Homo sapiens: one gene and its partners. The protein of the gene in region 3 purifies or fractionates together with the protein of the main gene of each other region. This does not show direct contact. Each region holds a gene or a part of one and is shown on either strand. Other genes may lie near its edges.

What was found.
Region 1: the proteins of USP25 (region 3) and KCTD13 purify together in Homo sapiens (affinity purification with mass spectrometry; 3 studies listed by BioGRID and IntAct, with this or other methods). This does not show direct contact.
Region 2: the proteins of USP25 (region 3) and KRT4 purify together in Homo sapiens (affinity purification with mass spectrometry; one large-scale study listed by BioGRID and IntAct). This does not show direct contact.
Region 4: the proteins of USP25 (region 3) and PCMT1 purify together in Homo sapiens (affinity purification with mass spectrometry, with the first as the bait; one large-scale study listed by BioGRID). This does not show direct contact.
Region 5: the proteins of USP25 (region 3) and CUL2 purify together in Homo sapiens (affinity purification with mass spectrometry; 2 studies listed by BioGRID and IntAct, with this or other methods). This does not show direct contact.
Region 6: the proteins of USP25 (region 3) and KLHL13 purify together in Homo sapiens (affinity purification with mass spectrometry; 2 studies listed by BioGRID). This does not show direct contact.
Region 7: the proteins of USP25 (region 3) and CGAS purify together in Homo sapiens (affinity purification with western blotting, with the first as the bait; one study listed by BioGRID). This does not show direct contact.

What each region holds. Positions count from the first base shown.
Region 1 is NC_000016.10:29,916,227-29,919,726, reverse strand, and holds part of KCTD13 (BTB/POZ domain-containing adapter for CUL3-mediated RhoA degradation protein 1), read left to right. Parts: exon of another isoform or gene 1-196; intron 197-3,500. UniProt on the Homo sapiens protein: Substrate-specific adapter of a BCR (BTB-CUL3-RBX1) E3 ubiquitin-protein ligase complex required for synaptic transmission.
Region 2 is NC_000012.12:52,811,317-52,815,261, forward strand, and holds the start of KRT4 (keratin, type II cytoskeletal 4), read right to left. Parts: upstream 2,801-3,945; 5' UTR 2,743-2,800; coding exon 2,281-2,742; intron 662-2,280; coding exon 447-661; intron 1-446.
Region 3 is NC_000021.9:15,830,982-15,834,481, reverse strand, and holds part of USP25 (ubiquitin carboxyl-terminal hydrolase 25), read right to left. Parts: intron 3,082-3,500; coding exon 2,853-3,081; intron 1,156-2,852; coding exon of another isoform or gene 1,142-1,155; exon of another isoform or gene 1,135-1,141; coding exon 934-1,134; intron 1-933. UniProt on the Homo sapiens protein: Deubiquitinating enzyme that hydrolyzes ubiquitin moieties conjugated to substrates and thus, functions in various biological processes including inflammation and immune response.
Region 4 is NC_000006.12:149,808,741-149,811,919, reverse strand, and holds the end of PCMT1 (protein-L-isoaspartate(D-aspartate) O-methyltransferase), read right to left. Parts: intron 1,305-3,179; coding exon of another isoform or gene 1,292-1,304; 3' UTR 501-1,291; downstream 1-500. UniProt on the Homo sapiens protein: Initiates the repair of damaged proteins by catalyzing methyl esterification of L-isoaspartyl and D-aspartyl residues produced by spontaneous isomerization and racemization of L-aspartyl and L-asparaginyl residues in aging peptides and proteins.
Region 5 is NC_000010.11:35,083,842-35,087,341, forward strand, and holds part of CUL2 (cullin-2), read right to left. Parts: intron 1-3,500.
Region 6 is NC_000023.11:117,897,313-117,900,561, forward strand, and holds the end of KLHL13 (kelch-like protein 13), read right to left. Parts: intron 2,084-3,249; coding exon 1,596-2,083; 3' UTR 501-1,595; downstream 1-500. UniProt on the Homo sapiens protein: Substrate-specific adapter of a BCR (BTB-CUL3-RBX1) E3 ubiquitin-protein ligase complex required for mitotic progression and cytokinesis.
Region 7 is NC_000006.12:73,442,298-73,445,797, forward strand, and holds part of CGAS (cyclic GMP-AMP synthase), read right to left. Parts: intron 3,451-3,500; coding exon 3,231-3,450; intron 1-3,230. UniProt on the Homo sapiens protein: Nucleotidyltransferase that catalyzes the formation of cyclic GMP-AMP (2',3'-cGAMP) from ATP and GTP and plays a key role in innate immunity.

The DNA of each region.
Region 1 (3,500 bases), on a different chromosome or scaffold from region 3:
AATCGTGTTGTATGAAATGTTTTATAATCTGTTTTTTGTTGTTGTTAATAATTGCCATCTTTACATGTCAATAAATTTTTATTTAATATCCAGTCCAGGGCATACTCCGGTTTCTCCAGTTGTTCCAGAAATGTGTTTTTACAGCTGGTTCATCAAACCAGGGTCCAGTCTAGATCTTCACGTTGCATCTGGTTATCTGCAAGTTAACAATGGAAAGCATGACTTTACAAATAGTTTCATGTAATAATGTTGAAGAGATGATAAGAGTTATAGGTATTCTATGGCACGAATGTAATTACTGGTTCAGGTAAGGATTATCATTGATAGGTAACTGCCTTAATACAGTTACCATAATAATACCATAAGCATTACTTTATTACATAAGCCAAATAATACCATAAGCATTACTTTATTACATAAGCCAAATAATACCATAAGCATTACTTTATTACAATCCAAGGGGTCCCTTTTTCCTCACGATGCTGGCTTGTTAAAGAGACTGCCAGTTGTCCTGCACAATGACCCGCTTTCCAACTTTGCCTGGTTGTTTACTCCCGGTATCGTTTGGTTTATTACCCAGCCTTATCCTTAATTTCCTGTAAACCAGACTGTAGATTTTAAATGACTGATATTGGGTGGGCACGGTGGCTCACGCCTATAATCCCAGCACTTTGGGAGGCCAAGGCAGGTGGATCACTTGAGGTCAGGAGTTTGAGACCAGCCTGGTCAGCATGGTGAAACCCCATCTCTATTAAAAATACAAAAATTATGCCAGGTGCGGTGGCTCATGCCTGTAATCCCAGCACTTTGGGAGGCTGAGGCAGGTGGATCACAAGGTCAGGAGTTCAAGACCAGCCTGGCCAACATGGTGAAACCCTGTATCTACTAAAAATACAAAAAAATTAGCCAGGCCTGGTGGTGGGCATCTGTAATCCCAGCTACTCAGGAGGCTGAGGCAGGAGAATCGCTTGAACCTGGGGAGGCAGAGGTTGCAGTGAGCCGAGATCGTGCCACTGCACTCCAGCCTGGGCAACAGTGCGAGACTCCATCTCAAAAATAAATAAATAAATAAATAAAAAATTACAAAAATTAGCTGGGAGTGGTGGTGGGTGCCTGTAGTCCCAGTTACTCAGGAGGCTGAGGCAGAAGAATTATATGAACCTGGGAGGCAGAGGTTGCAGTGAGTCAAGGTTGCACCACTGCACTCCAGCCTGGTCAACAGAGCAAGACTCTGTCTCAAAATAAATGAATAAATAATAAAATAAATAAAATGACTGATATTAAACATTTTGTTTAGAATACATTTTAGGTAATATTATGTATGTATTTCACGTTGGGCCACATCAAGCAACCCATAATATTGTTAATATGACTCGTCATTAATGACGTTCATAATTGGCCCCTGGATCTAGGGGATGGTGGTTTGATTTCTCTATCATTGTTACATTTCCTTGTTGCTAACTATAAAATAATGCATATGGTATTTGGCCACTGTATTAAGGCAGTTACCTATCAATGACACACAAATTGATAATCCTTACCTGAACCAGTAATTACATTTGTGCCACAGAATACCTATAAGTCTTTTCTCTTCAACATTATTACATGAGATTATTTGTAAAGTCATGCTTTCCATTGTCAACTTGAAAAATTCTTGATTTGGATGTAGTCCAATTCCTCACCATTTTTTGCCTAATGCTGTATCCTTATGGTCTTGTTTAAAAATGTTTTTCTGATTTTCTGTTACCTGTGAGCTTTGTAGTTTTATTTTTATTTTTTGAGGCAGAGTCTTGATCTGTCACCCAGGTTAGAGTTCAATGGTGTCATCTCGGCTCACTGCAACCTCCACCTCCCAGGTTCAAACAATTTTCATGTCTCAGCCTCCCGAGTAGCTGCGATTACAGGCGTGCACCATGACACCTGGCTGATTTTTTATTTTTTATTTTTCTAAATGGAGTCTCACTCTATTGCCCAGACTGGAGTGCAGTGGCATGATCTCGGCTCACTGCAACCTCTGCCTCCCGGGTTCAAGCGATTCTCCTGCCCTAACCTCCTGAGTAGCTGGGATTACAGGCGTGCACCACCATGCCTGGCTAATTTTTGTATTTTAGCAGAGATGGGGTTTCACGACGTTGGCCAGACTGGTCTCGAACTCCTGACCTCGTGATCCGCCCGCCTTGGTCTCCCAAAGTGCTGGGATTACAAGCATGAGCCACCACACCCGTCTAATTTTTGTATTTTTTGTAGAAAGGGGGTTTTGCCATGTTGGTCAAGCTGGTCTCAAACTCCTGAGCTCAAGCGATCTGCCCACTTCGGCCTCCCAAAGTGCTGGGATTACAGGTGTGATCCGCTATACCTGACCTATAGTTTTAAATATGGATTTTTTTCATATATGGGTATTTTAATCTAAATGGAACTCACTTTTGTAAATATGATTGTGAAGGGATTTAGCTCATTTTTGTCTTCCATAGGGTGAGGTAGTTTTCCCAGTGCCAGGTATTAAACAGTCCAGAGGTAGCCAGCACCCAAGACAGCCACCAGGGGTTCTTGCCTCCTGGTTTCCAGGCTCTTGTTCAGTCCCCTCCCACACCAAATAGGGCAGACCTTTTCAGATCCTCACCAAGGAGACCCTTGTGTATGACCAATAGGACATTGCAGAAATGACAGCATGTGACTTTGAAGCTAGGTCATAAAAGACATTACAGCTTCTGCCTCTCTTTGAGATCACTCACTCTATGTGAATGCTATGTGAGGACACTCAGGCATCCCTAAGCAGAGGTCCACTTGGTGAGGAACTGAAGCCCCTGCCGACAGCAAGCACAGACTCCCCGCCATAGTGGTGACCTGTCTCAGAACCAGAGCTTCTAGGCCCAGGCAAACCTTCTGATGACTGCAGCCCTAGCCAAAATCCAGACTGCAGCTTCATGACAGATTCTGGGCCAGGGCCACCCAGCTAAGCCCATCCCAAATTCCTGACCCACAGAAACTATGTGAGATAATGTTTATTTTTATTTATTTATTTTTAAATAGAGACAGAGTCTTGCTCTGTCGGCCAGGCTGGTCTCGAACTCCTGACCTCAAGCAGTCCTCCAGCCTTGGCCTCCCAAAATGCTGAGATTACAGGCATGAGCCTCCACACCTGGACTGTTGTTTTAAGCTGCTGAGTTTGTAGTAATTTGTTACCCAGTAACAGAGAACAGACTTTGGTTTCTGGAATGGGGGTCTGCCATAACAGAAACCTCAAATGTAGAAGTAACTTTACAACTGAGAAGTGGGAAGAAGCTGGAAGGACTTTGAGGAGATTGTTAGTAAAAGCTTAAGGAGTGTTAAAAAGTATTGGCTGGGCACAGTGGTTCACACTTGTAATACCATAACTTTTGGAGGCCAAGGTGGGAGGATCACTTGAGTTCAGGAGTTCGAGACCAGCCTGAGCAATATAGTGAGACCTTGTCTCTAAAAAAATTAAAAGAAAAAAGGTGAGAAAGTCTGTTAATAAGAGT
Region 2 (3,945 bases), on a different chromosome or scaffold from region 3:
CATTTAATTCTCACAACCCATAAAGTAGGAATATTATCCCCATTTCAAAGATGAATAAAACTGAAGCTCAGAGAGGTTCAGCTATTTACCCAAGGTCACACAGCTAGTAAGTGAGGACTCAGTATGCAAACCACCTCCATCTGTCTCTACAGTCTGTATTCTTCTAATCATACTATACTGCTTTTCATCTATTTGGGTTCTGATCTTGTTCGTATATGGCAGACCCAAATCCCTGAATCTATCATTAAATTTCCTTTCGGAAAAATCTGTGGTTACCAGACCTCACCCTGAGAAAACGTGACTATGTGGATGTAGCAAAACAGACTAGAGGGCCTTCCTAGACGCCTTCAGAGCCTGAGATTCTAAGCCACTGGAGAGAGCCCCGGGAGCCTGGGTGTGGCTGGGCACATGTGTCAGATGGCGTCCCCTCCTTCCTCCCCATGTACTTAGTCTTGAAGTCCTCCACGCTGTCCTGCATGGTCTTCAGCTCAGACTGCAGGCGCCCTTTGTCATTGCCCAAGGTATCTAGCTGCTTCCTCAGGACACTGAGGTAGGTCTCAAAGAGGGGCTCAAGGTTTTTGCTGGAGGTGGTGGTCGTCTGCTGCTGGAGCAGGTTCCATTTGGTCTCCAGGACCTTATTCTGTTGCTCTAAGAACTGCACCTGTGTTGATAAAGGCACCAGCCAAGTGATGAGGGCCTGAAGTGTGGCAGGAGGGCCAGCCAAGGCAACACCAACCCAGTCAATCCCAGGGAACTACACGGCCCAAGAACCACCCAAGTAGGGCCACTATGTTGCATCTCCAGGGCACCATTCACTCGGGTTGACATGATGGCCCCATTCTCGAGCCCATAGCACCAAGGGGTCACATAGGTTGTGGAGAATAGAGCACAGCCAGAGAAGCAGGGCCTAACAGTGCAACAAGAACAACTTCCTAGCCGCAGGCACCCAAAGCCCCAAAGAACATTAAACTTCTATGAAATAACAAAATAAAATTAAGAGACATCACAATCTGGAGGCTCTTGCATTCAAAGTGATCCTGACCCAAGGCAAATGAAAGACAAAGTCACTACAGACTTTTTAAATAAGCTTACTTATCAATGGATCTGGCGTGTCCCTGTGAACCTGTGAACAACTGAGTATAGATATTTAAAACAAGGGCCCTGTACGCATTGTCTCACCTAAACTCCATTCTGCAAAGGACTTTCCTGAACTTTCCCTCTCTCTATGAAAAAATCTAGCCAGACAAACCAGGACAGCAGCTTAGCATGACATTTCCATGTTATGAGCCTCAGAATTGAAAGGAAAGCAGGTAAGGCAGACCGATCACATTTTGAACCCAAAAGGTAAAATGAGATGAGATGAGACAAGGATGCATCAAAGAGCCCTGAGTTTTTGCTATCACATCTGCATGTCCTATAGTCACAGTAAAACCTCTTTAAGTTACTATGGGTTTATTCAAACTAGCAAGAAGAACAAATATGCACCTTATTCTATTCCAAAAGTGTTCATTCTTGCCCCATATGTCGAAGCTGCCCAAGACTTTGATGCCTGGTGAACCAGGGCAACCTGGACCAAAGGGAGGCACTCATCCACCCAGTCATCAATCTTTGGATGACTCGGCTCTCTGGGGCTGCACTGCTCACTATCATCCATCATGCATGACCATAACTGAGCTTAAAGAACTTGAACTTCTAGACGTTGCATGAAAAAGGAAGTTGGGCTACAAAAAGAAAAGAGACCTGTCTCCTTTCTTCAAACAGACCCAGACATGAGCAGTGTTGTCCAGTCAAAGGAATGAAAAAAGTAAATTTCCAAGGCCTTGGTGAGACCTAGAATCTGCCACTGGAGCCAGTCCCTTTTTCATTTGCAAAATCAGCTTAGTTGTCTTCTGTTCTAAGAACAGAAGTGGCCACTGTTAAGTGATTAATGGGGTTAACTGCATTATATTCAAAACCAAAATCTGAGAAAAAGCAGAGAAATAATGAACCCCCTTTATAGCTGGGATGACTAGAGCCAGAAAAGCCAAATGATTTGTCCAGTATCCCACAGCCTGTCTAGGGAATTCCAAACACTTAACTGCCTTGAGCATCCCACCTTCCCACCAGCCACGGGACAAAAAGGAAGGCTCAAAGTCATGATGCCCCTTCAACAGCTGGAGAATTGGGGCCCAGGGAAGTTCAGTGGTCTCCCCAGCACCTGTGGCAGGCTCAGGTCTGAGACCCCAGGACTCAGGACCCCTCTCTTCTAACTGCCCCTCTCCAGCCGAGGACACAGCTCACCTTGTCGATGAAGGAGGCAAACTTGTTGTTGAGGAGCTTGATCTGTTCGCGCTCTTCCGTCCGGACTTTCTGGATCTCAGGGTCAATCTCCACGTGGAGGGGGGTGAGCAAGCTCTGGTTGATGGTGACCTCCTGAATTCCCCCAGCGGGGCAGACGGGGAAGCCAGGGCCACCCTTACCACTGAAGGAGCCCCCAAATCCACCACCAAAGCCACCAGTGCCAAAGCCTCCAGCACCCCCAAAGCAGGCACCTTGTCGTGACCCAGCCACACTCATGGAGATGCTTTTGTTCCCCCTGAGGTTGTAGAGGCTTCTGCTGCCAAATCCCCCAGAAGAGCATCGGCCAGCACCTCCAGACATGGAGACTGAGCTGAAGGCACCTCTCTTGCCACCGCCTACAATGGCCGAGCCACAGCTGAAGCCCCGGGGCCCGCCTCGGACACACTGCTGTCTGGCAATCATGGCTGCAGAGAGCGAGCTGGGAGCTATCAGAGAAGTGACAGGGCCCAGGCCGGTGAGTGCTGGAGCCCTCAGCCTTCGTCTCTTATATGTCCTGGAGCAGCAGGGCTTGGTTGCAGGGGCATAAAGGGAAAAATCTGAAACATCTCTGGGCTTGGCCCTTGGCACAAGCCCATCCTTCCCGCACCCGTTGAGCATGTCACTAAACACACCTACAGAAGTCATCTGGAGGGCACAGGTTACTGGATCCCATCACACTACTCTCTGGGAGAACCTGAACTGGTGCCCCAGGGCTTCCTAATCAGAAGCCCCTGCCTGGGCCCAGCGCTCCAGGCCCACACCCACTGTACCTCCATCTCGCTAGGCTCACAGCACCTCCCTCCTCCAGAAAAGACACCCCATCACCCATCCTCTCACCCCACAGAATGTGGAGTTAGACAGCCTGAGTTTGAGCGCACAGCCTGCCACCTCCTAGCTCTGCAAACCGGAGCAAGTCACCCTCTGAGGCCCAGTTGCTTTCCCTGTAAATTGGAAGTAATACAAATATTTGCCTTGCCACTTCTCAGGATAGAGTGAGCTAGTGATTAATGGAGTGCTCTGTAAACTGTCAAAAGCCACATGTATATTTGTCATTCTTAGCATTCTTATTCCTCCACATGTTCTTGGCTCCATGTACCTATAAAAAGGGGAAATATTCTGTATTCCAGCCTTAGCCTTCCAACCTAGATCCAGATTCACTTCAACTTGGCCAACAGCTACTGAGAAACTGCCAGGCATGGAGCTAGGTACTAAGGAGATGGGGGAAGACAAAACACCTCCCCAAAGAAAACCGTGACTGTCTTTCTCAGCCCTGGGTACCCATGCTGCCCCGCAGGCCTCCCTTCAATCTGTGCTTGCACAATTCTAGATGGGCGTTCTCCAGCGGGGTCTGGTGGTGTGCACTCTGCTGCTCCATTTGCTGTCCAGTTGTTTGCTAGGTGTGTTCTGGTTTTCTGTAATGGTGCAGAATTCAGGGCAGGAGTTCATAACTTTTTTGCTGCTGGGGATCCCTTTGGCAGAATGATGAAACCTATGGATCCCTTCTCAGAGCAATGTTTTTAAATGCAAAATCCTAGTTTTAAGCCATAACTTAAATTCTTCCCAACTGAACAGTAACAGATCTGTGTTCAAATCCCTCCTGTTGCCACTAACTAGCTGTATAACCTT
Region 3 (3,500 bases):
TACTTCCTTAAAACACAAAACATGCAGATCTTGCAAAAAAAAAAAGTTATTCAATAATATCCACTAGCAGTTATAAAAAGAGACAAATGAGTTTGAGGAAAATATATGCGCTTAATTTATAGCTTCTCTGAGAAATAGCATTTTCTATACCAGAAAACATGTTGCCCTAAAACATATTTGCAACTCAGTGAAGAGTAATCTTTTAAGAAAATAAAAAGACAATATATTTTCAATTTTACTAGAAACTATTTTCTTAATTCCTATACAGTGTTTACTTTGACTTATTGATTTCATCAGCTAATAGTTCATTTCAGAATAATGTTTTTAAATATTTATATGTTTATGCATTTATATCTTTGGTTTACAGGTCTATACACTTACTTTTTACCTGTGATATACTAAATAGTTTTGGTCAATTTTCTCTTAATCTTAAGAATTCCGAAAAACATCAAATAGTTATTAATGGTAGTATTTTACTATTGCACAAAGTATATATGAATATACCGGTAGTATTATTTTGGCCAAATTTAAAATTACTACTCTTGATAGCTTTATTGAATTGATACTCTTGATAGCTTTATTGAATTGATACTCTTGATAGCTTTAGTGAATTGGTTTGGGTTTCTTGCTGATTTCACAGCTTTCTCTGCTACTTGCCAAGAAAATTCAAGCCCACCCAACACAGGCAGAGTAGGTAGAGGGAAAGTCAACAGAATTATCTCATTTATCTTGAAAAACATATAAATATATACAGTGGTGTCTGGCAAAAAGGTAAACTAAATTGTTAACTGTGATAATCTGAGTGATGGAATTTGAAATGATTTCTACTGATTTCCTCACACTTTAAGATAGCTAAAACTTTTTAATAATGAGCATATCTTATTATAAAAATAATATTGATAATCAAACACAACTTAATAAAAATGGACAAACCTGTTGTCACAGAAGTCTCTGACTCTCTCAATTTCTGAGACGCTAAAAGCTTTTCCTGCAAAGCTTTCTGGGCAAGTTGTGCATCCCATTCTTCTAGTTCTTTTTCAAATCGTTGGTTGTCTTCCTCAACAAAATCTCTCAAATCCGGTGGTAATGTTTCTATACCAACAAGGGGCTGCCCAGTTTCTTTATTAAACTCCTCTGCAAATCATATTTCAAAAACTAGTATAAAATTAAGAATTAAAGGGAAAATGCAAAGCTCAAAATAGACTGCATTTCAAATAGAATTTAAACTATGAATTATTACCACTCAGCCAATCATATTACTTAAGAATTACTATTGCTTAGCAAATAATTATTATCTACAAAACTTTTTAAAACTCAAACAAATGCTCAGAAAAACAATGATGAAAATATTTGATAATCCATCATAGGTAATGGTCTCAGATTTTTTTTTATCTTAAGAGTAGAAGTGACAGAAAATACAAAGCCAAAGCCAAGTTTTTTGTTGCTGTTGTTGTTTGTTTTTTTGAGACAGAGTGTCATGCTGTCACTCAGGCTGGAGTGCAGTGACACAATCTCGGCTCACTGCAACCTCCGCCTTCCGGGTTCAGACGATTCTCCCGCCTCAGCCTCCCGGGTAGCTGAGACTACAGGTGCCCACCACCAAGCCCGGCTAATTTTTTTGTATTTTTAGTAGAATGGGGTTTCACTGTGTTAGCCAGGATGGTCTCGATCTCCTGACCTCATGATCTGCCCACCTTGGCCTCCCAAAGTGCTGGGATTACAGGCATAAGCCACCGCGCCCGGCCATTTTTTTTTTTCTTTGCTACTCTAACAGTGATGTAATACTACTTCTGCCACTATTGGAAAATACCAGATGTTTGATCACTTAAAAAGTAAAACTTTTCACAAAATGTAAACAACTCATAATCATGTTAACCTTATTAGCTCAAAATAAAATGAAAATTGTTTGTCATATGAAGAAATTAAGTAGACTTAAATATGCAATTATGAAAATTAATATAGCAAGATCTTAAAAACAATAGAGTATTCAGAAGAATTACTGAACTTCTACTACACACACAGAAAAATAACTTCATTTTTTTAGTCAGAAGTGGACTGCCTAGCTGATTCTGAATGACTAAATATAAAAAGATTATTTTTATCAGTTTCAATAAACCTTTATTATTTTCTATATGCAAAGCATATATCAGAATATCAGCATTAAAAAGATTCAGACATAGTATGACATGATCTCTGGCTCTGAGCAGATAAGAGAGAAATGTGCAAGACAAGTCATCACACAGTTCCAATACACAACAGTAAATGCCCAGTAGACAGATGCCAGGACAGCATAAGGAGAGATACTTTTTGGCAGATCAAGAAATAGTTTGCAGGGGAAATGACACCTGAATTGAATCTTGACAGATAAACAAGAATTAGGCAAAAGAATTACTAGCAAAAAATAAAACATATACGAACATGCAAACATAAATGTGTGAAATGGTTTGATATGAGCAGATACAGCAAGAAGTTCAGTAAGGATATAAATTCAAAAGGAACACTGGTGATCAATGAAGGTGGGGAGATAATCAGAGGCCAAGAACAGAGGCCATATATGTTAGGCTAAGGAATTAAATATTAAATGTGAGTCAATCTGTGGAACAGTCACTAAAGCATTTTTAGCAAGGACGAAAAAGGTCATATTTACCTTTAATAGTTGACTTGGAATACAAAATATATACGAATTCTTAGCCCTGACGACATTACTTTTCAATTCAGTCTTGTCAAAACCCAGTAGCATTTCCTAACCACATCCTTCATCGTCTGAGTGAATTACACTTAACTAATCACACCACATACCAGAGCCACTTTTATGACTATTTAAAAATACACACCACCCTATATATTCTTACCTTGTATTAGGAACTGTGCCTTATCATTTATGTACATTAAACAGTATGCACTGGCATTTCTATAACCACCAAAAGAGTCCCTCACTAGCTCTTCCCATGATGATTTTGTCACAGCAATATCATTGTACTTCATCCATCTGCTTTCACGATGATCAAAAATATATGCCCAGTAGTGCCCAGCATTAGCTTGGCCTTCGTGAACTAAAACGGCATGTAATCGATAAGGAACCTAAATGTGAAAAAAAGAAGAGTTAAACTGCAATTATGTAGTTTACTATATACCACATTCCATGAAACCCACAAACAACCTGTTTGGAGAAAACCATAAGAGCATTTTTTTTTTTAAATGAGAGAGAACTGGCTGGGCTTAAAAGTTTGAAAAAAACTAAACTATAAAACTTTAAAAAGACGGAATCTGAATAAGCTAAAGATATGCAAAGTTGATAGATTAAAAAGATGATTTTTGAAAAACTAAAAATGTATTTATTGTGTACATACTCATTGGCCTAATTGTTTATTTGAATAAAAAGCTTATAGTGGGCAGTTTTACATATAGCAAATGTGTCTACATCTTCAGAATTCTAAATTGACGGTTAACAAAATAGATTATATGATATACACCAGAAGTTAAAATGTAATGGAGTCCTT
Region 4 (3,179 bases), on a different chromosome or scaffold from region 3:
TTGCTGGGAGTGCTGATTCTGCTCATTCTGGAGCTTATATTTCCTCAGTTCCAGAACTACTTCTTATAAAAGTTATAAATCACAACATTTAAATAAGATCCCAAAGTGCTACTGCCTTCTTAGAAATTCAGCTATAGTCATTATATTAATAAATCTTTGTATAGGTGAGAGATGGGTTTTGGTCTGTTCACCCTCAATCCTGTTCTTTCCTGACTTTAAGTCGATTCATTCACCACTCACTCACTCACCAGCATTTACTGTATAGCTACTACAGGGCAAGCCCTGGGCTAGGGAGTCAAAGAGAAATGACGACTGAAGTACGGTCCTGGCCCTGGAGCAGTGTAGTCACATTCTACAATGTACAGTTGGATTAATGCTAATTACTTACTCAGACTTCGCAAAAGGAAACAACCAGAGAAACAGTCTTTTTCCCATGATCGTAAACACTCCCTATCTGGTGGACTTGCTGTTCTTCCTTCTATATTCAAAAACAACCAATGCCTCTTTTACTTTTAACTTTATTTGGCAAAGCAGCACTGCATAAACTGTTCAAGAACTAGGACACAGCTTACACAGCATGTTAAGTTCATATACATTATCAGCAGCAAATTAGAAACAGAAAACCACACTAAACTACAAGTCTCCTATAATTTTGAGAGAGAGAGAAGGGAAGAACTAAGTCAGTTATGTCCAATCTGAACAGCTGAGTGTTTACAGGACATCACCTGCCATCTTATGGTTTAATATTTACAAATGCCTAGTTTTAAGGTAACAAAGCAGCTGATTGTATCTACAACATGCTATTCTATGACACCACATCAAAAGCTTTAAAAAGAAAGCTCATCTCTATTTTCTTAGTAGCATCTAACAGATATCCAAATACCAAGAATCTTAACTTGTGAATGGTGGTGTTATCCAATGCACAAAAGCAATCTGATAAATTAATATCAGAACAGAATTAAGTGTCCAAGAAAAGAAAAACCACTCCTCAAAATCAATTCACAAACTAAGTTTTCCATTTTACAGAACCCTTTCTTTTAATATTTCCAAGTAAAATATGGGCATGTTAAAGTAATATTACACAAATTTATACTTTGCATCCTTCCTCTACCAATTTGGCTCTGTGCCTCTTTGAAGAATCAGAAACCCTAAAAAAACACACATTTTCATGCTGAAAATAACAGTGTAACAAAGTCCAAAACAAGCTGTGATGGTGTTGGTTTTCAAAAAGCTTTGAGGACTGAGATGAGCAATCCACTGTAATTTTATACTGGTCAAGCTGATGTTGCTTTTACAATTCATCCCTGTGAGGAAAAAAGAGAGAAATACATTAGTAGGAGTTACACACTACCCAATTTGGCTTTATAATAGTTTAGACACAACTATTAAGTCAATAAAAATGCGCTGATCACCAAGCAATATATTTAAAAAATAAAAATGCAAACAACCCAAGTGAAAGCAACAGAGGGTCAGCCATTCCAAACATCTTCCATGCCACTCCAGAACCAAGTATGCAACCTAAAGGGCGTGAGTTCTTCATTTTTGATTTCTAAAAATAGATTTCTTCCTTCAATGTCAAAATTCAGAAAAAATATCTTTTAGATCTACGGTCATCTTTACACTATAGTAAAATGACAACTTAAGTGTTTTAGAGTTCAAATGAGTTGATAGTTACATTCACAAAATTGGACAGAAATGTGGTCTTTTGCTCAGAATGTCCACTAGCAATTGTGGAGTGGGTCAATCTCAACCCAAGCGCTCTGAGAGAAAAGGCATCATCTGTAGGTATAATATACCTGTCAGCTGATTTCATAAGGCAGCTTTATCAGCTCCAAAAGAAACCATTCACTCAGCCAGGTGCAGCACTGTACCAGCAACTGCCAGTGAGAGGAAGGAAGGAATAAAAATGCAGTCTAAAATAAACTGTATGGTATCTCAGTTATACCTCAGTAAAACTGTTAAAAGTGAAAAAATGAATAAAACCACGAGAGAAGCCCACAAGCCTCATAGCTGAAGGTAATGTGAGTGACAAAAACAAGAACTTTAGGGGTAAAGAAGCATGATATTGATAATTAAGTCTCAAGTGGTTTAAGAAAAAGGAAAAAAATTACATATATGTATATATAGAAAGAGGGGAAAGAAATGTAGAAAAATGATAATAATTGATGACTCTGGATGAAGAGATTTAGGAGTTATTTGTACTATCCTAGCAACTTGTTGGCAATAAAAATTAAAGTTAAAAGTTTTGAAAAAGTTGTTAAGATAAATTTGAAGGGAAGAAGAAATAAAGAGCTCATAATTTCACAAGTAAGTGGGGGTAAATTACTGGACAATTTTTTTAAACTAAATTTTGTAAATTGTGCAAGAAAATATTTTTAAAATCATTTCTCCAATAAGCTGCCTTTATCCTATAGTATTGGATTATCTATTAAATGACAAATCATAAGTCTGCTTCCTCTTAATATATTCTTCCAAATAACAATGTTATAATTCTCATAGAACAGCTTTTACTTAACTCATGCAGGCATTAAAATATTTGGTCAACAAAGAATTATTTGCAAAGTGCTCTATTCATAAAGTAAAATTCACTTCTGCTTTTTAGAATATGAACTGAAGATATTGTTTTTCTTGTTTTGGCTTTTTTTTTTTTTTTTTTTTTTTGAGACAGAGTCTCGCTCTGTCACCTAGGCTGGAGTGCAGTGGTGTGATCATGGCTCACTGCAACCTCTGCCTCCCAGGTTCCAGCAATTCTCCTGCCTCAGCCTCCCGAGTCGCTGGGATTACAGGCAGGCACCACCATACCCGGCTAAATTTTTTTTGTATTATTAGTAGAGACAGGGTTTCACCACGTTGCTCAGGCTGGTCTCGAACTCCTGACCTCAAGTGATCTGCCCACCTCAGCCTCCCAAAGTGCTGGGATTACAGGTGTGAGCCACCATGCCCAAGCCAAAGATATTGTTATTTTTAAATAATTTACTACAATTTGCCAGGGGCAGTGGCTCACACCTGTAATCCCAGCACTTTGGGAGGCCAAGGCGGGCGGATCATGAGGTCAGGAGATCGAGACCATCCTGGCTAACATGGTGAAACCTCGTCTCTACTAAAAATACAAATAATTAGCCGGGTGTGGTGGCATGCACCTGTAATCCTAGCTATTCGGGAGGCTGAGGCAGGAGAAT
Region 5 (3,500 bases), on a different chromosome or scaffold from region 3:
CTGAATTAAAACAAGGCTGAGATATTTTTAAAAATTTACATATGGCAAATCCATGTTTCATTCTTTGAAAAGCAACCTACAATAGAGAAAGACTAAGTCACTGAATTAATAGATGTAACTAACATTATTTATAATGTTAAACTATATAAAAGAGGCCAGGCACAGTGGCTCACACCTGTAATCCCAGCACCTTGGAAGGCCAAAGAGGGCGGATCTCTTGAGGTCAGGAGTTCAAGACCAGCCTGGTCAACATGGCAAAACCCTATCTCTACTAAAAATATAAAAATTAGTCAGGTGTGGTGGCAGACACCTATAGTCCCAGCTACTTGGGAGGCTGAGGCAGGAGAATCACTTGAACCCAGGAGGCAGAGGTTGCAGTGAGCTGAGATCGCGCCACTGCACTACAGCTTGGGTGACGAGTGAAACTCTGTCTCAAACAAGCAAACAAGACACAGTATCAGTCTGAATTTTTAATTCTCCAGAATAACAAAGCTTAAAGCAAAAGGAAATATTCCACCTCTCCTCCTCCAAAAGAAAAATCAACAGGGTTCAAGGCACCCCGGAAGTTTCTACAGATCCAACACCACAATCTTAACCTAACACTACTACTGTCTCAAAACTTTTAAGAATCAAAGGGATTGTCTCCAATAAGCCTTTCCCAATGAAAAGCCAAATATAAAGTACTGATATAGAAATCTATACATTCTTAAAGGTAACCCAAAGATTATGCTAACTGCAATATGACAGATACGTTACCAGTAAGATTCAAACCCAGGCACAGAGCCAAATCACTCTGAATAGATATTGTGATTAACTGATTACTGAGAGAGGGTTCAGTCATACATCTCATAGATCAATAACTTGTTATAAATCTCATAACATTCCAAATCGCTGCTTGTTTTTCCAAGATTTAACATGAGCCAGTCATAAGTCCTCATAATATTAAGATTCTAGGGCTGATCCTGTCATCAATTTACTTAAAAACAACTGATAGTTGGACAGGCCTGGTGGCTCACACTTGTAATCCCAGCACTTTGGTAAGCCGAGGCAAGTGAATCATGAGGTCAGGAGTTCAAGACCAGCCTGGCCAACATGGTGAAACCCCGTCTCTACTAAAAATACAAAAAAATTAGCTGGGGGTGGTGGTGGGCGCCTGTAATCCCAGTTACTTGGGAAGCTGAGGCAGGAGAGTCTCTTAAATGCCAGAGGCGGAGAATGCAGTCAGCCGAGATTGTGCCACTGCACTCCAGCCTGGGTGACAGTGTGAGACTCCATCTCAAAAAATAATAATAATAAAAAATAACTGGCTGGGTGTGGTGGCTCACACCTGTAATCCCAGCACTCTGGGAGGCTGAGGCAGGCAGATCACAAGGTCAGGAGATTGAGACCATCCTGGCTAACACAGTGAAACCCCGTCTCTACTAAAAAAATACAAAAAATTAGCCAGGCATGGTGGCGGCTGCCTGTAGTCCCAGCTACTTTGGAGACTGAGGCAGGAGAATGGCGTAGACCCAGGAGGCAGAGCTTGCAGTGAGCTGAGATCGCGCCACTGCGCTCCAGCCTGGGCGACAAAGCGAGACACCGTCCCAAAAAAAAATAAAAATAAAAATAACTGTTAGGGCCAGGCGCGGTGTGGCTCACACCTGTAATCCCAGCACTTTGGGACACTGAGGAAGGCGGACCACAAGGTCAGGAGATCAAGACCATCCTGGCTAACACGGTGAAACTCCATCTCTATGAAAAATACAAAAAATTAGCCGGGCATGGTGGCAGGCGCCTGTAGTCCCAGCTACTCGGGAGGCTGAGGCAGAATGGTGTGAACCCGGGAACCAGAGACACAGCCAGACTCTGTCTCAAAAAAAAAAAAAAAAAAAAAACTGATAGTGCATATGAAACATTGCTTTCAATCACAGCCAGACATTTTTCCAGAATACACAAAGAACAGGCAGATAAGGTAGAACACAAAACAAACAGTGCAAACTTTTGTAAAGTCTCACAAAAAGAAACAGCTTTTTACAGCGAGGGAGGAAGGGCATAAGGGTTGAAAAACGGTTGGGTACTATGTTCAGCACCTGAGTGACGGGATCATTGTATCCTAAACCTCAGCATCACACAATATACCCGGGTAACAAACCTACGTGTGTACCTCCTGAATCTAAAATGAAAGTTGAAAAAGATAAAAATAAAGAAACAAGCAGCCTGGCCAACATAGTGAAACCTTGTCTCTACTAAAAATACAAAAATTAGCTGAGAGTGGTGGAGGGCGCCTGTAGTCCCAGCTCGGGAAGTGGAGGCTGCAGTGGGCTGAGATTGAGCCCCTGCACTCCAGACTGAGAGACTCTGTCTCAAAAAAAAAAAAGAAACAAGAAACAAGGCCGGGCACAGTGGATCACGCCTGTAATCCTAACACTTAGGGAGGCTGAGGTGGGAGAATTGTTTGAGCCCAGGAGTTCGAGACCAGCCTGGGCAACACAATGAAACTCTCTTAGTTCTGTCACCCAGGCTGGAGTATAGTGGCTCACTGCAGCCTCCACCTCCTGGGTTCAAGTAATCCTCTCACCTCAACCTCCCTAGCAGCTGGGATTACAGGCCTGCACCACCACACCTGGCTAATTTCTGTATTTTTTGTACAGACAGGGTTCGCCATGTTGCCCAAGCTGGTCTCAAGCTGCTGGGCTCAAGTGATCCACCCACCTCAACCTCCCAAAGTGCTGGGATTACAGGCCTGAGCCACCGTACGTGGCCGGAAACAGCTTTTTAAACAACTCCACACCTGTAGGTCAAAAACTTAACGAGACCAGCCTGGCCAACATGGTGAAGCCCCATCTCTACTAAAAATACAAACTCCAGCCTGGGTGACAGAGCGAACACCATCTCAAAATAAATAAATAAATAAATAAATGAACTTAACAAGGGCAGGGACCAAATCAGAAAATGCTGCAGTACTCCACAGTTTTATCCTCTTTCTACATTCTCTGTGTTCTCATCCTATTTCATAACTTAACTACTATTTAACACTCTAAAAAATACAAATGTCAAAGTAAAGTGTACTACTGTTTCTGCAAAGTGGGAACAATATTTGCTTATATGTCCACAAATATTTTTTTCCAAGGAGATCTAAGAAACAGCTAACAATGTTTGGCTCCAAGGAAAGCTGGATGACAAGGGTACAAGAAGTGGAGGGAGATTTTCATTCTATTCCCTACTGACAATTTTATATTTTGGTTTTCTGTTTGTTTTAGAGACAGGGTCTCACTCTGTCACTCAGGCTGGAGTGCAGTGGTGCAATCACAGATCACTGCCACTTCCAACCTGGTCATCTGGCCTCAGCTTCCCAACAGCGGGTACTACAGGCGTGCGCCACCACGCCTGGCTAATGTTTTTTAAATTATTTTTTGTAGACATGGGGTCTCACCATGTTGCCCAGACTAACATCTTAAATTTTGAGCCATGTGAATACAGTTTTTGTTCAAAACATTAGTATACCAATAAATAAATGC
Region 6 (3,249 bases), on a different chromosome or scaffold from region 3:
CATAGCCCTAAATTTTTGGCTCAGATTTAATCTGATCATCTGCAGATAAAGTAGAGAAGATCACAATACGATGCTAATATAATTCTCAAATAATCTTTCACAAAAACATTTTTCCTTTGGGATCCCAGGTCGACAAATCTCTAAGGTAATTTTACACAATCCCTTCTCATCAGGCAAGATGGATCCTCTTGAAGATCAGGGAGACTAAACTCGGAATTGTAACTGCTCTTCTGGTTTAGATATGGCTGGCAGTTCTTCTGTGGTGATGAAAAGCCAGTTAGCATCTTCCATAATCTAATTCCCCAAACACAACCAGCAATGAGTTTTGATGAATAAGGTTAGATTTTGTCAAATTCTTTTTTTCCTTGAATAAAAAGGCATATTCACTCATCCAAGCTGCTCAGAGCTGTAAATTCTGATCACATTTTGCCATGCCAAAAATATAGATATTTAATCAAAGGAAGTCAAATCAGACAATAATGGGATGTCTCAGACCAAAATGACATTAAATGTTTTTATTGAACAAAAAAAGATAAAACATGGAAGTTGAATTTACTGAGCAAAAGCAGCTCTCCAGGTGAAGCTGCTATACTTTGTGCTAAATAACCTTATGAACTGAGTATACAGAATACATATAATATGCAAGTTACCTCAACAGCAAAGGAGAAGGAGTAGAATACAGTTTTTGAAGATAAAATCTGGTCAAGTGACAAATTTTGTTGCTCAAAATTTCTAGCCCTTATCCACCTAAATTCTGTATGGTTCTACATATATGCATTCAGTATGTGCATACTGAATTCCCATTTTAATGGAAGCTGCTTTTTGGAAGAATTCTTTTTAATTTCACATTTCTTTGATGTGCCACTCAATTTTTAAAAAAATTATATTTGACATATGTGCATGTGTGTATGTGTATGTATGTATACACACTTTAAAAACACCAAACCCTTGTTTATAAGTAGAGGGTTCATGCTGCTTTTTAAATTAATATTAGTGAATTTAAGCTACTTCTCCTGTGTGTCTAGGAAACTTTGTGTTCTCAATGCACCCACACAGTCAAGTGGGTTGACAGATATGTCAAAAATACTTTATGAAAAGAGGGAGGTAGCTCATGCGAGTTGGCAACCTTTTGTGTATTGTTTCCTGTTCAAGCAGGCTGCCTCCCTTTGACATCTTACAGTCAAAGATGAAAGGAAAACTTTTTACTTGAAGCCTAGTGAGCACAGTTGTACATTTACTATAATCCACCTTCAACTTGGCTTATTGGGTTTACTAATGTAAGATGACAAATACCTTACACCCAATACACAGCATTTAAAAAGTACTGAAGAAACATTTTATAGACAATACTTTTTTTTTCATATGTTAAACATCAGCTTCTATGGGATACATTTCCAGAATGGTTGTGTTACCACTTTATAAACATTCTAGGCCAAACAAAGAGCACAAATAACATCAATGTTGTCTTTTTTCCAATATCTGTATCAATTACCAGAGGGTAATCCTAACATATATACTACTTAAGGGGGAAAAAGAAGAGAATTTATGACACATTGCAAAGATAGAACTACAGCATCTTAGTTGTAGAGATGATCTTAAGGTGCAGAAAGAGGGGACTCTCTAGAAGGTGATGGTGTGGTTTCTTCTGGTGGAAAAACTGTGAGTGTGCAAGCACGAATGCCACCAAGGGATTCTGGCAGATCAAAAACCTTATGCCATTCATCTTTATCTGGATCATATTTCTGCACTATCTCTACCATACAACGATTATTCCAAGAATACCCCCCAACCACATAGATTTTATTTTCGAAGACAGCGACCCCAACATCACTCTGCCCTCTTAACATGGCAGCAATTGGGGTCCACTGGTCAAGGATAGGTGAATAGTATTCACAGCTTAGGACATCATCATAATCACTTGTTCCTCTGAAGTGATTGCCACCAATGACATAGAGCCTTTCTCCCACTGTACACATGCAATGCAGACCTCTGACAGTGGTCATTGGCGCCTTCTGGATCCATTTGTCAGTATCAGGGTCAAAGCACATGAGCTCCTTTTGGAAAGTATCATGAGTAATTCCTCCTAAAGAATGAAAACAATAGTTTTGAAGTAAATAATTATAGAAATGCAAAAGTAATTAAAGGAGCTCTGTCACAGATAACTTTTAGTCACATATTATGACATATACCTTATCAATACTGTTCTTAGGACTGTCTTCCCTCTATAAATACATTCTCTGGATTAAAAGTAAAGAAAATAGCATTTTCATCTTCTTAAAGAACAAAACAATTACTTTTTTTGCAATCACTTACATTATTGCAATGACTTTCTCAAATGTAGATCCCTGGTATTTAAAAGGCTTTGCTGAAGGAAAATATATTTTGATCACTGATAGAGTTGGGTCTGTAGTAAATTCCAACTACAAAGCATCATTCACTACTTACTGCCTTTTAGTGGGTACCCTCTGGGTACTGAGCACTGGGCTAGAGCACATTAAATTCCAGGTTCCCATTTCCTCACTTGTCACAAAACAATATCTACTCTAGTTATTGCATCAGGATTGTGACTCTGAAGTGAGATATTTATCAAAATGCTTTGAAAAAGTTGAAAGTCTTGCACATGTGTAAAAGCTTATAAGAATATTCAGAATTGTTTATGTTTATAGAGTTTTCTGTGGGCAGAGTGAGGGTGGATAATGTCATCTCTTATCAGAATGCATATTTAAAAATCTAAAGAATTAGAATGCTGAATATACGTGGAATTTTATACATGCACCAATTTGTTGTTAATCTAATTTAGTCTGTATCATCTACAAAGTGTACTCTTAGATCACATATAAACCAGTCTCTACAATGAAAGTATTAAACGATACCTTCTGTAGACAAGGGAAAGAAGTAAGCTAATCTTTAGTCAAATCATTCAAACCTTTACTGTCAAATGGCCAGATGCCAATCACTATCACTGTTTCCTTCTGCTTTTTAAAAATATTTTCCTTGTGCTTTACAGAATTCCCAGAAAGCAAAACAGTGTTCATTGTTTTGAAAATCAGCTATAGTTTCTAACCACTCTTGATTGGGAAGGTCATTTCTGCAATATACGCCAGTTATGCCAAAACACCACTAAAACAATTCAGGTGTCATTTTTCTCAGAGGAGTTGGAGCTCTCATTATAATGGTACAGCAGCTGCCCACATAAAATAGATAGATGGTGTAAATCATTGATTAATGGGAGCATATTTATTACCTGGA
Region 7 (3,500 bases), on a different chromosome or scaffold from region 3:
ATTATTCTGAAATTCATACAAAGGGTTATAGGGTATACCTCTCCTTTCACCCCACATCTTCCTCCTCTCCATACTCACCCATCTTTCTGCTTCCTTCCAGCCCAAACTTTTTTTTTTTTTTGAGACAGGGTCCCGTTCTGTCACCCAGGCTGGAGTGCAGTAGCGTGAACATGGCTCACTGCAGCCTCAACCTCCTAGGTTCAAGCAATCCTCTTGCCTCAGCATCGTATGTAGCTGGGACCACAGGCACATGCCACCACTCCTGGCTAATTAAAAAAATGTTTTTTTCTTTTTTCTTTCTTTTTTTTTTTTTTTTTTTCTGAGACAGTCTTGCTCTGTCGCTCAGGCTGGAGTGCAGTGGCGCAATCTCAGCTCACTGCAACCTCTGTCTCCCAGGCTCAAGCAATTCTTTTGCCTCAACTTCCTGAGTAGCTATGATTATAGGTGTCTGCCACCACGCCTGGCTAATTTTTGTATTTTTAGTACAGACGGGGTTTCATCATCTTGGCCAGGCTGGTCTTGAACTCCTGACCTTGTGATCCGCCCACCTTGGCCTCCCAAAGTGCTGGGATTACAGGCATGAGCCACCATACCTGGCCTAAAATTTTTTTTTGTAGAGATGGACTCTCACTTTGTTGCCCAGGCTGGTCTTGAACTCCTGGGCTCAAGCAATCCTTCTGCCTTGGCCTCCCAAAGTGCTGAGACACCACAGTTAGCCCAGACAGAACTTTCTAGAGTGGCCTACACATGTTATCTCCACTGCAACCCTGCCTTTTCACTCTGTGTCCATCACCCCACTGACATTTCTCTTGTCAACCCCACAAGACCAAAGAACAAATCCATTGGATTTCTGGATGTCAGTAGCATTCCAAACACTGACCGCTCCTTCTACAAAACACTCATAGTCTCCTTTTGTTCATTCTCTTCTTCCCAAACTCTTTTTTTTTTTTTTTTTTTTCTGAGACAGGGTCTCACTCTGTCGCCCAGGCTGGAGTTCAGTGGCGCGGTCTCAGCTCACTGCAACCTCCGCCTTCTGGGTTCAAGAAATTCTCTGCCTCAGCCTCCCAAGTAGCTGGGATTACAGGCACCCGCCACCACGCCCGGCTAGTTTTTTGTATTTTTAGTCAAGACGGGGTTTCACCATCTTGGCCAGGCTGGTCTTGAACTCCTGACCTCGTGATCCACCCGCCTCGGCCTCCCAAAGTGTTGGGATTACAGGCGTGAGCCACGGCGCCTGGCTCTTCCCAAACTCTAATGGAATTCTCTTCTTACCACTCTACTTAACATTGCAACTTCCCCCCCACCTCCATCTCCCACATTCCTGATCCCTCTCACTTTGCTATACTTCTTCACAACAGCACTTACTACTTTCCAGTATACAAGATAATCATTTTTTCCATTTGTTATTAATTGTACGTCTGTGCTTGCAAGATAAAGCTCTTAATCTAATAGCGTAATAACATACAACACAAATTGCAGTGAGTGCTCTGAAGGGAATAAACTGGGAAAAGTGATAGCAATTAGGGTGGAATGGGGTGGTGGAGCCAAGCCCTGAGGCAGAAAAAAAGAGCTTGGAAAGATCTAGGAACAAAAAGAGACTCTTTCGGAAAAGATGAAGTTATATGAAATGAAGCTGAAGAGGCAGCCAGGGACCAGATTCTGTACTGACTTGTAGACCCTGAAAAGGACTTTAGATTTCATTTTATTTTTGAGACGGAGTCTTGCTCTGTCGCCCAGGCTGGAGTGCAGTGGCACGATCTCGGCTCACTGCAACCTCCACCTCTCGGGTTCAAGCGATTCTCCTGCCTCAGCCTCCCGAGTAGCTGGGATTACAGGCATCCACCACCACGCCTGGCTAATTTTTGTATTTTTAGTATAGATGGGGTTTCACCATCTTAGCCAGGCTGGTCTTGAACTCCTGACCTCGTGATATACCTACCTCAGCTTCCCAAAGTGCTGGGATTACAGGTGTGAGCCACTGCGCCTGGCCAGATTTTAATTTAATTTAATTTAATTTTATTTTATTTTGAGATGGAGTTTCGCTCTTGTCACTCAGGCTGGAGTGCAATGCCCCGATCTCGGCTTACTGCAACCTCTGCCTCCCAGGTTGAAGCAATTCTCCTGCCTCAGCCTCCCAAGTAGCTGGGATTACAGACATGTGCCACCACACCCGGCTAATTTTTGTATTTTTAGTAGAGATGGGGTTTCTCCATGTTGGCCAGGCTGGTCTCAAACTCCTGAGCTCAGGTGATCCACGCACCTCAGCCTCCCAAAGTGCTGGGATTACAGGTGTGAGCCACTGCGCCTGGCACCAGATTTTATTATCTGATCATTGAGAAGCCAGGTTTTCATCAGAGAGTAATGACTGGCTTTGTATTTTAAAACATTTACTCTGGCTTCTAAGGACAGATATTATAAGAAGGCAAATAGGGAGATTAGAAAGGAAAATGATGTAATAGTTCAGGTAAAAGATGGTGGCAGCTTAGGTGGGGTGGGAGTAGGGTGCTGGGATTGAAGCAGCAGACAGGTCCAAGCTGTAGCAGCACTTGCATCTGGATTAAGCGTAGGGGGTAACAGAGAGGATTAAATTAAGATGGTTCCCAGGTTTCTGGATGGTGCGTCTGGGTGGATTGATTGTGCCATTTTCTGAGATGGGAAGGACTGAGGCAAAACATAGTTTGGTATATGAATTAAGTTATGTTTATTCGCTTTGGATATGTTTGGTTATAGATTCCTGTGGTACATCAACATCAAAGTGGATATGTTAAGGACGTAGCTGGATATAGGTTTGGAGTGCAAAGGATATATTTGGGCTGCAAGTAAACATTTGGGAGTCATCATCATATAGGTGGCATTGGGAATGGATGAAATACCTAGGCAGAGAGTGTAGATTCATTTATCCATCAATTTAATAAATATTCATTGATTATTTCATATAATTTAATCATTTAATTTAATCAATATTCATTGATTATCTAATGTGTAGGTGTTCTAGTTATTTAGGATTCATTAGAGAACAAATAGATAAAGACCTCTACCCTTCTGTACTTTATAATCTTGTAATCATATTATAAGTAATTGCCAATGTACACTCCTCTACTGATGTTTCTTGACCTCTCTACTGCACTTTTTCTTACTGCAGAGAGGTCAAGAAACATGAGAATGGGAGTGTACATTGGCAATTACTAGGTATAATTAAACCTTTAAGAATCAAAAGGCAAAAGTCTTACCTTTAATGTCGTTAATTTCTTCCTTAATGATTTTCCTAAACTTTGACAGCATCTTAGAAGCTGATAATATTTCACCTTCTAAAAACTGACTCAGAGGATTTTCTTTCGGATTTCTTTTAAATTTCACAAAGTAATATGCACGAGTGTTGGAATATTCTTCTAGTTGAATTCTGGGGACTTCCAGTTTAAACATGACATCAAATTCATTAGGTGCAGAAATCTAAGAAACAGTAAAAATAGTACTGAAATATTTGCTTATGAATATTTTCC